2 separate regions of the Homo sapiens genome follow, and region 1 is linked to region 2. Evidence: fine-mapped expression QTL. A gene starts in region 2. The other region holds a variant in brackets. All regions are shown on one strand. Distances are between the middles of the regions. Region 1 has its middle 220 kb from the start of FSIP2. Region 2 holds the start of FSIP2-AS1 (FSIP2 antisense RNA 1).

What was found. PIP is the estimated chance that this variant, and not a neighbour inherited with it, causes the effect. A credible set is the group of variants that fine-mapping cannot tell apart.
Region 1: its variant is the best candidate, but not a certain one, in a credible set for the expression of FSIP2-AS1 in visceral fat (GTEx, PIP 0.51).

What each region holds. Positions count from the first base shown.
Region 1 is chr2:185,519,507-185,524,898 of GRCh38, forward strand. No RefSeq gene overlaps it. Among named protein-coding and RNA genes, the nearest start is that of FSIP2, 220 kb to the right of the region's middle. The variant T/C (reference allele first, on the strand shown) is at 2,896.
Region 2 is chr2:185,797,465-185,802,856 of GRCh38, forward strand. It overlaps FSIP2-AS1 (FSIP2 antisense RNA 1), which reads right to left and starts at 2,686. Exons shown (of 3, transcript NR_144453.1): 1 at 2,616-2,686. It overlaps FSIP2 (fibrous sheath interacting protein 2), which reads left to right. Exons shown (of 23, transcript NM_173651.4): 16 at 1-62; 17 at 2,233-5,392.

The sequences.
Region 1 (5,392 bases), 280 kb before region 2:
CAAGTGCTTTCCCTCAGTACAAGTTTGATGTACATGAGAACACTTACCTTTAAAGCCAGCTGTAAATGTTGAAGCGGAAAAATGTAAAAAGTTTGGAAACTCAAAGCAGACCTTGGAGAAAAACTATGTGGTAATGCAGAATAACTATTTTGATCTTTTACCTAGAAAACAATTTCTATTACATTTGATCCATTATACATTGTGAAGGGTGTTTTTATTATTGACTCAAGCACTTAGTGAAATGGTAAGTAATAAAGTCATAGTTACTACAGAAAAAGTGATTAAATCTAGAATAATACAAAAGCTAAAAGCAGAAAAATTTTGACTGAATGAAGTGATACATGCTAACAAAGTCTAGAACTATTTTTAAATCTAATTTGGGTAGGAAGTATAGAATGAAGGAAAAAAAGAATTTATGACCATAAGAATTTTTTTGATTAAATGGTGACAATTTTTTAACAAATAGTTGAGAATATCCAGATATGTAGTAAGATATATTAAAATAAAACTCAGGACTAGAAAAAGAAATTTTAGATTCATCAGTATAGGTATTTTTTTGACAACCATAAGTTTCAGGTGACCAAACTGTCTATTGCAAGAATTTTGAAAATTAAACATTAGAAAAATATAAAATATAATGGAGGAACAAAATGAGAAGATTAGAAAGGATAAAGACCAAATTAGAATCAACTAAGTCAATAATCTCAACAAATGGTAACTGCAATAAGTAAGAATAGAAAGGTAGACAAATGTGTACAAGAGTTCAGTGCCCTAAGCACAAATCTAGGGTAAAAATCATACAGTTTACATATTTCTAAGTAAGATTTCACATTTCACCCCTAATTTCAATTTCAATATATTTTATGATTTTATTACTCTAAACAAGGAAACAAAATATATGGGGAGACAGAATATGGAGAGGATGGCCTAGGTTAATTCCTCATGCATAAAGGAGATGTAAAAGGGAGTATGATTCTAGTTATAGCTGAGTTCTCTTTCATGATGCAAAAGAGAATTTCAATAGAGATATAGGTACACTAGTTATTAACTCTACACTATTTGTGAAATGTTAAGAAAATATTATATACTCACATTTTCAAGGTGATAGCAGGCGAAAGTTTTTAAAAATCCTGTTCTGGTCAAACAGGAAGAGAATCAGGAAATAATTTGTCATATATATGTAAATATATATATTCATGAGCCTCCATATGTAAATGCAAATGATAATGACTATTAAAGAAATAACAAAACAAACATATATGTCAGAAGTAAATGGCTAGATAAGTTATGTCTTAAGTATTCTGCAACTATTCTGTTTCTACCTACAACCTAATGGGGTAACTTGGCTTTCCTATACCTTTTTTTCTTTTCTAATTATATGAATTCAACAAGCTAAACCAGTTGGCTCAGACACTTTTCATAGGAGAATTTGATGATTTATAGACTGCTATTGAAACCTGTCTAGAACTCTGATGTTTCTCCAGAGTTGGATAAATGTGTTCCAGAAAATAAAATTCTAGCAAATCCACTCATTTTTGTCAAAGACAAATATAAGCTGTTCAATTCCCATCAATATAAAGACTATTCATAAAAGGTATTTAAAAATTCAGCCCTGAAACCCAATAAATGAACTTCTGTTTATGATCTTCAATTTCAAGAGGTCTTTATCTGACCAGCATTATGTAGATTGAGGATGTGAGTTTTCAGTACTGACTGTGATATTTTAAACAAGGTTTATTGTCAGCTCTTCTCCCTCTTTCACCATAGCCCTCCCAATATGTCATATAATCAATAAAATCTCTCTCCAATGTGGTCATGTCTCCCCGACCGTTGCCCATTCAATTTTTCCTTCATACTCCCACACACATATCTTTCTCCCCTTCATTTACTGTGTTCTTTATTAAGACTATCATCTCACCCTGAGATCTCAAATCTCTATAATCTCTCCTTCTTCCATTTTGTCTTCTCTGCTTCCAAAAAAAGAAAGTTTTTCTTTTTAAGTTTGAATAATTTATCCCTTCTTTACTTTTCTCAAAAATTTTAATTAGCTCCCATCAGATATAATTTAAATGCAATGTCTCAACCTCCTGTAGAAAGTCCTCTTTCTTCCTTCTCTGTTTAACCATTACAGCTCTTCATTCTGTACACTCAGCCACATAGTGTTTGTACATGAAGAGATAGGCTTTGAGTCTGTTAGAGATCTGGAGGCAGAAGTATAATCTAGGAGGCATTAGTGCTGACTTCTTTTACATATCTCTCCATCCTCTCATCCATAATGAGTTTGCTTTGATGGGGCAGTAGAGGCTCATGGCTTAGAGAAAGTTAAAGGAGCCGTTGTTTGTTTATTCCAGTGATGGGTAAATTACCCAGAGTTTAAATGGGCAGGTCACAACAAGAAATTAGCTTCCTTCTCAATTCTAGCAGAAAAGTGTTGTGTACAGCATGGAAACTTTTATGGAAAACAACTCAAGAAAGTGTCTCACAAATATCTGTTGCATTATCATCTGTTCTGTATGACAGCATACATTCCATGTGTTCTATATCCTGCCCTAATAAACTTGAAACTTTGTAAGTGGTGTGTATGTGTATGGAGACAGTTGGGGGATTTTAGAAGGTCTTTTAAATCTATAACACTCTAATAAATTTTTAGCCCTTTACCCTTTTGTGCATTATTTCTTATGCTAATAATTCATCCCAGTAATTGTTTTGTAATTTTATAAAGTCTAAATGATAGTTTTTCTTCTAAGTACATCCCTGACCAATGTCTCCCTCATATCTCACTATATCTATCTAAACTATATGATATAGTTTGTCTGTGTCCTCACTGAAATCTCAACTTGAATTATATCTCCCAGAATTCCCATGTGTTGTGGGAAGGACCCAGGGGGACATAAC[T/C]GAATCGTGGAGGTTAGTCTTTCCCATACTATTTTCATGATAGTGAATAAGTCTCACAAGATCTGATGGTTTAGCAGGGGTTTCCACTTTTGCTTCTGCCTAATTTGCTTGCCGCCGCTATGTAAGAAGTGCCTTTTGCCTTCTGCCATGATTCTGAGACCCCCCCAACTATGTGGAACTGTAAGTCCAATTAAACCTCTTTTTTTGTTCCGTTTTGGGTATGTCTTTATTAGCAGCATTAAAATGGACTAATACAGTAAATTGGTACCAGTAGAGGGCAACCTTGCTGAAAAGATACCCGAAAATGTGGAAGTGACTTTGGAACTGGGTAACAGGCAGAAGCTGGAACAATTTGGAGGGCTCAGAAGAAGACAGGAAAATGTGGGCAAGTTTGAAACCTCTTTGGGACTTGTTGATTGGCTTTGACAAAAATGCCGATAGTGATATGAAAACGTCCAGGCTGAGGTGGTCTCAGATGGAGATGAGGAAATTTTTGGGAACTGGAGCAAAGGTGACTCTTGTCATGTTTTAGCAAAGAGACTGGTGCCATTTTGCCCCTGCCCTAGAGATTTGTGGAACTTTGAACTTGAGAGAGGTGATTTAGGGTATCTGGTGGAAGAAATTTCTAAGCAGCAAAGCATTCAAGAGGTGACTTGGATGCTGTTAAAGGCATTCAGTTTTATAAGGGAAGCAGAGACTAAAAGTTTGGAGAATTTACAGCCTGACAATGCATTAGAAAAGAAAAACCCATTTTCTAGGGGAGAAATTCAAGCCAGCTGCAGAAATTTGCATAAGTAGCAAGGAGCCTAATGTTAATCCCCAAGATCATGGGAGAATGTCTCTAGGCCATGTCAGAGAACTTCCCAGCAGGCCCTCCCATCACAGGCACAGAGGCCCAGTAGGAAAAACTGGTTTTGTTCGATGGGCCCAGGGTTCTCATGCCATGAGCAGCCTAGGGACTTGGTGCCCTTTGTCCCAGCTACTCCAGCTGTGGCTGAAAGGGGCCAATGTACGGCTTGGGCTGTGGTTTCAGAGAGTGGAAGCCCCAAGCCCTGAGAGCTTCCATGTGATGTTGAGCATGTGGGTGCTCAGAAGTCAAGAACTGAGGTTTTGGAACCTCTGCCTAGATTTCAGAAGATGTATGGAAACAACTGGATGCCCAGGCAAAAATTTGCTGCAAGGGCAGGGCCCTCATGGAGAACCTCTGCTAGGGCAGTGTGGAAGGGAAATGTGGGATTGGAGCCCCCACACTGCATCTTACTGGGGAGGAGAGGGTCCCCTCATCTGAGAAGAGAGGGCAACCATCCTCCAGACCCCAGAATGGTAGATCCACCAACAGCTTGCACTGTGCACCCAGAAAAGCCACAGACACTCAATGCCAACCTGTGAAAGCAGACAGGAGGGAGGCTGTACCCTGCAAAGTCATAGGTTGGAGCTGCTAGAGACCATGGGAACCCACCTCTTGCATCAGTGTGACCTTGATGTGAGATCTGGAGTCAGAGGAGATCATTTTGGAGCTTTAAAATTTGACTGCCTTGTGGCCTGGTGCAGTGGCTTATGCCTGTAATCCCAGCAACTTGAGACGCCAAGGCAGGCAGATCATGAAGTCAGGAGATCGAGACCATTCTGGCTAACACGGTGAAACCCCGTCTCTACTAAAAATACAAAAAATTAGCCAGGCATGGTGGCAGGCGCCTGTAGTCCCAGCTACTCGGGAGGTGGAGGCAGGAAAATGGCATGAACCAGGGATGCAGAGCTTGCAGTGAGCCAAGATCACGCCACTGCACTCCAGCCTGGGTGACAGAGCAAGACTCCATCTCAAAAAAAAAAAAAAGAAAAAAAGAAAAAAAGAAAAAAATTGACTGCCCTGCTGGATTTTGGACTTTCATGGGCCCTGTAACCCCTTTGTTTTGGCCAATTTCTCCCATTTGGAATGGATATATTTACCCAATACCTGTACCCCCATTGTATCTAGGAAGTAACTACTAGCTTGCTTTCGTTTTACAGGCTCATAGGTGGAAGGACTGGCCTTGACTCAGATGAGACTTTGGACTGTGGACTTTTGGGTTAATGCTGAAATGAGTTAAGACTATGGGGAACTGTTGAGAAGGCATGATCGGTTTTGCAATGTGAGGACATGAGATTTGCAGGGCCCAGGGGCAGAATGATATGGTTTGACTGGAACCCACCAAAATCTCACTTGAATTGTATCTCCCAGAATTCCCAAGTGTTGTGGGAGGGACCCAGGGGGAGGTGGTTGAATCATGGGGCCAGTCTTTCCTGTGCTCTTCTCATGATAGTGAATAAATCTCACGAGGTCTGATGGGTTTTTCAGGGCTTTCTGCTTTTGCTTCTTCCTCATTTTTCTCTTGCCTCTGCCATGTAAGCAGTGCCTTTCACCTCCCGGCATGACTCTGTGGCCTTCCCAGCTATATGGAACTATAAGTCCATTTAAACCTCTTTTTGTTCCCAGTTTCAGGTATATCTTTATCTGCAG
Region 2 (5,392 bases):
TCTGATAGCAAGACATGTCACCACATCTGTGGTCACATATTTGAAGAACTTTGAAACTACAGGTAAGCAAGAGAGAACGTACCTAAAAATTTGCATGATTTAGGAAGAAAACCAGTAAAAGACATGTTTAAAAGATCTCCTGTCTAAAAAGCTGTATTCACTATTTTTCTGAAAATACCCTTGGAGGTAGATGACTACTGAGTTGCACTTTAATTTTATTTTAAATGTATTATTTTATTTTATTTAGAAATAGTGTCTCTGTCACTGAGGCTAGAGTACAGTGGCATGATCATTGCTTCCTGCAGCCTTGAACTCCTGGACTGAAGACATCCTCCCATCTCAGCCTTCCCCCAAAATAGCTGGGACCACAGGCATGCCACTGCACTCTAATTTTTAAAAATCTTTTTGTAGAGACAGGGTTTTGCTATGTTGCGCAGGCTGGTCTCAAACTCCTGGCCTCATGTGATCCTTCTTTCTCGGCCCCTCAAAGTGTTGGGATTACTGGCATGAGCCACTGTGCTCAGCCTCAATTGCTTTTTAATTCATCACAATGCAAAAAAATAAAAATAAATAAATGTTTTCAGGATTTGAATTTGAAGGATGTGTTGCTCAGTTTTCTCTATCTACAAATGAGAGAAAATGAGGCCATTTTAAAGCAGGAGATTTTGGTTGAGCATGAGGCATAAATTTGGAAGGGTTTTTAAAATTCTTATGCATAACTTCTTTATAATCATATGGGATGTGCAGTTAACTGATTAAAAGTCATTTAATTTTTGTATTCTTGAAGGCTTTGTTATTATTATTCAAAGTTTAAAAGAACAGTAGAATTGAATATCTTGTTTTATTTGCATTCCAGTATTCTGACTTAAATTCCTTTTAGATATAATACTCCAACTGTATCATTACAGGGATTATATTTGCATTATCTTTCTAAGTATACTCATGTGTATATATTAGGTGAAACAACATGTAATCGTCATTTTGTATATCAAAAACAGTTGATTATTGACAATTAATAAAATTCAGTTTAGTATTACTATAATACCCCAGATCTAGGTCAGTAGTTTCAGTTACCAATAATTACTTGCTACATCACCAGTCCAGATACATCACACATCATTCTAATTGGAGATATTAGCAGTCCTACCCACCTGCACGAGGAGGTTATTTTCCATCCTTAAAACCAGTATTCTCCCAAGATGGACGGTAATGTAGCTACAACTACAAACTCTTAAATAGACTTACTCCAGGCATGACTTAATTGATTTCAGAAAAATAAACAAAAGCAAAACAAGCAAGAGAAGATCCATGATTTCATCACATTGACACTTGGCTCTAACAATTCTATATTCCTATTCTCAGACATCTCCAAGGTCTTCCAGTGACTTCGCTCATGTTCCTTCTTCCACTAGGAATACCTTTTCCTCATTCCCTGTATCTTGACATGGCCAAAACCTGTGTAGCAGTCAAAGCTCAGCTTAAAGTCTTCTATCTGTGTAGAGTCTTGCCTGATAACACATGAAGATATATAATATATAATTAAGTTCTGAGGAAAAAAACTGTGTTGCTCTTGGCTGCCACACCCAGCAGTTGGCCATTGCAAATAGGTAATGATTTGTAACAAATAGAATTTTGGACAAAACAAATATAGAGTTCTTCACCTGGCTGGGCCAACCTTCCTTCTTTGTGACAAACTATAATCTAGGGACTAAAGTACTACTGCTATTGCAATCTATTACTAGCTTTTCTGGAGTTGCCACACTTTTATTTTAGTCAACTTGATATTGCAACACAACTCCTTAATGTCCTAAAAGTAAAACATAGCATAACATTAAATGTTTTGTCTAAAGCTATTTTAAAATAATTATATGGCACCTCTAGGTATCACTGGAGACATGGTAGGATGCATCGCTAAGCCTGGAAATTATTTCTCTGCCCCAAGCTTTCCAGCTTCTTAAGAGTTCATAACCATCCAACCAAGGCAGACATCAGCATTTGACTTAGAGGATTGAATTTTGGGGTGTTATTTTCTCAATTTATTGGCTAAAATTAAGATTTTGCAAGGTGAGAAAATAAATGTTTGAGGAAAATCTAATTTCTTTTTTTGTTTAGATTTTTCTTTAGTGAGTTGCTCAAAGGGTGAAATATATATGTAAATAATAATTTCAAATATATTGAATTTTCTATATTTTCTTTAATCCATGCTAAAATTACAATGTTTCCTTTTTTAAGTTTTTAGTGAGGAAAAGATGTCTGTTTCTACATGGTCAAGGAAAAAATATGAATCAAAACAGTTCCTAAGAAACATATACGATGATTCTTCAATTTATCAATGTTGTGAACATCTCACTGAGTCAGTACTTTACCATTTAACTTCGAGCATTTCTGATGGCACCAAAAAGGGTAGAGAAAAAGAGAAAGCATGGGAAATTCAAGAAGCAACATTTAGCAAGATTATTTCAATTCATTCTCAAGTGTTTGAGAGCAGGTCAATTTCCATTGGAGAACTTGCTTTATGTATTTCTGAAATCATTATTAAAATTCTTTTTAATAATAAAATTATACAGGCTGACATTGCACAGAAAATGGTTGCCATACCTACAAAATACACTTACTGTCCAGGAATAGTTTCTGGTGGCTTTGATGACCTCTTTCAGGATCTCTTAGTAGGAGTGATTCATGTACTGTCCAAAGAAATAGAAGTAGATTATCACTTTGAAAGCAATGTAAGAAACAAATCATTTTCTATGCATAGAAATAATAGTGTACCCCTTTGCAACAAAATCAATAGACAGGCAAGCCCCAGAGACTGGCAATTTTCTACTCAACAAATTGGTCAACTTTTTCAAAAAAATAAGTTAAGTTATCTTGCATGTAAGTTAAACAGCCTGGTTGGTAACCTAAAAACAAGTGAATCCAAAGAAGTAGTCAATAAAGTTTTTAATATTGTTTCAGATTTATTTTCACCAGATGAATGCCTAGATACGGGTATGGATTCTGGTAAAATACAAAGAACATATTTCTACTCCTCGAATAATGAGCAACCTAATAGCATACTTACCAATAACCTACAGCTCTCCTCAAAATCAGTTTTTCTTCTCAATGTTGTATGTGAGAAACTTATCAGAATACTTTTGGAAGAATGCACAAGCACTGCTTTTCCTGATAAAGGGTCTGTTTCAGAGGAAACATCAGCAGAAGAATGTCAACTTTTAAAAATGCTTCAAAGTGTAGAAGATGGAAAATCTGATTATCGTAAGGGAGGAATGGACTGTGAATGCCTTCAAGTAGATTACATGTCAGACCTTTTGGAGAATGTGGCAGAAATTGATCAAGACTTATTGACATCAGACTCTATGCTTACTATTATTTCCCACAGCTTGGTTAAATCATTGATGGACAAATTATCTCACAGCATACAACAAGCTCCGGAAAGTCTACCTTTTGCAAATAAGCATTTGAACTACAGAACAAGAGAAATACAGTCTAGTTTCATAAAAGCAAGAAAGTCAGAATTAATAGAATTAGGACAGAGTAAAAGTTCTTTAGAACTCAGGAGCTATGATAGTAATTCTTTGACAGTATCCCTGAATAATCCCAGTGTGGTTAGCTCCAAAATACAAGCACCATTTAACAAGCATTGTGCAGTAAAATCCTCTTCTGTGTCACCTTTTGAAAGACAGAGAACAAAGGAAATGGATAAGGTAGCCATTCATAATAAGCTACATCAGGAAGGTATATATGCTGGTGTTTATTCAGCCACATTTTTGGAAGGAATAATTTCAGAATTGTTTTTTAATCTCTCTATGTCATTGTGGGGCAAAAATAAAAACATCACTGTGTCCTGGCTCAATGAGATGAATACATTATTTGTCAACAATGTAGTGAATGAATTTAATAATGCTCAAGTCACTGTTCTACGGAATGCTGAAGAAAGGCTGTGTTTTCCACCAGTTCATACAGAAACTGTTAGCAAAATTGTTGACTCAGTTTATTATGATGTTTTACAGCAGTATGAATTAAAAGTGGCCTGTGGTAATAATCCGGTATACGACAATGCCTCAATAGCAGAACAAATAACAAATGGCATATTGTTAGAGATTTTAGACTACAAACTGCCATCTTGCTTCAAGGAACATCTCATACCCCATTCATATTACCCTCTCAAACCTGAAATTATATTGCAAAAGCTTCAAAGTAACCTAACAGAATTTACTTCTCTACCCAGGTCTTCATCAGACTATAGTACCATGTTATCACATTCATTTTTAGAAGATGTCATAAGAAGGCTTTTATCTCAGCTAATTCCTCCACCCATTACATGTTCCTCTTTAGGAAAAAAATATTTAATGAGTTCTGATTTTAATGAAATGTCCACTTGTATAATAAATAAGGTTATGTCAGCCATTTCAAAACATAAAATCTGGTTCACTATATATGATAATCAATATCTATATACTGGAAAAAACCTCCAAAAGATGGTGGATTCTGTATATTGTAATATTTTGCAAATGTCTGACTCTCTTGTTTCAATACAAAAAAGTATAGTAAGCCGAAGCCCAATTATGATTGACCAAATAGCCAGCTTTATCATCCAAGAGATTATCGAAAATCATCTTCAACCATTTTTGAGTGGAGAGGTTTTATGTCATCCAAGGACTCCACTGGATCCAGTGTCTACTATTGTTACACAGGTTCTGAGTGAAGTGATAGAGTCACACAGACCTCAGAAGCAATCACCTTTAGATATTCACCTTGATTCATTTGTAAGGGAGATTGTTGCCAGACTTTTGTCAAAGATTTTCAGCCCAAAGCATAACACTGAAATTGAGTTGAAAAACATGACCCAAAGAATAGTAAACTCCATAAATAGGCATTTCAATAAAGCTAAAATTCACATTCTCTATGATGACAAAGAACAGGCTTTCTTTTCTTTCAATACAGATATTGTGGATGAACTTGCCACCTCAGTTTATAGAAATGCTTTAAAGCAGCATGGGCTAGACCTTGCTGTTGATAAAGAGTCTGAAGACAGTGGCATTTTTGTGGAAAATATTACCAATTTAATTGTAGCAGCTATTTCAGATTACCTTCTTCATCCACTGTTTTCTGGGGATTTTTCAGCTTCTACCTATTCTAATTCAGTGGCTGAGAATATTGTTCAGGACATCCTTAGTAACATCAGTAAATCTACTGAGCCAAGCCAGAGTGTACCTCTATATAACACCTTGCTGCCATACACATTTTTAGAAGATATGATCAGAGTACTATTATCTAAATTATTTTCTTCTGCATCTAGCCTGGTTCTAAACAGAGACACCCAAAAAGATATATCAAGAGTGAATTTCAATGACATTGCTTCAAACCTAGTTAGTGATATTAGGATGAAAGT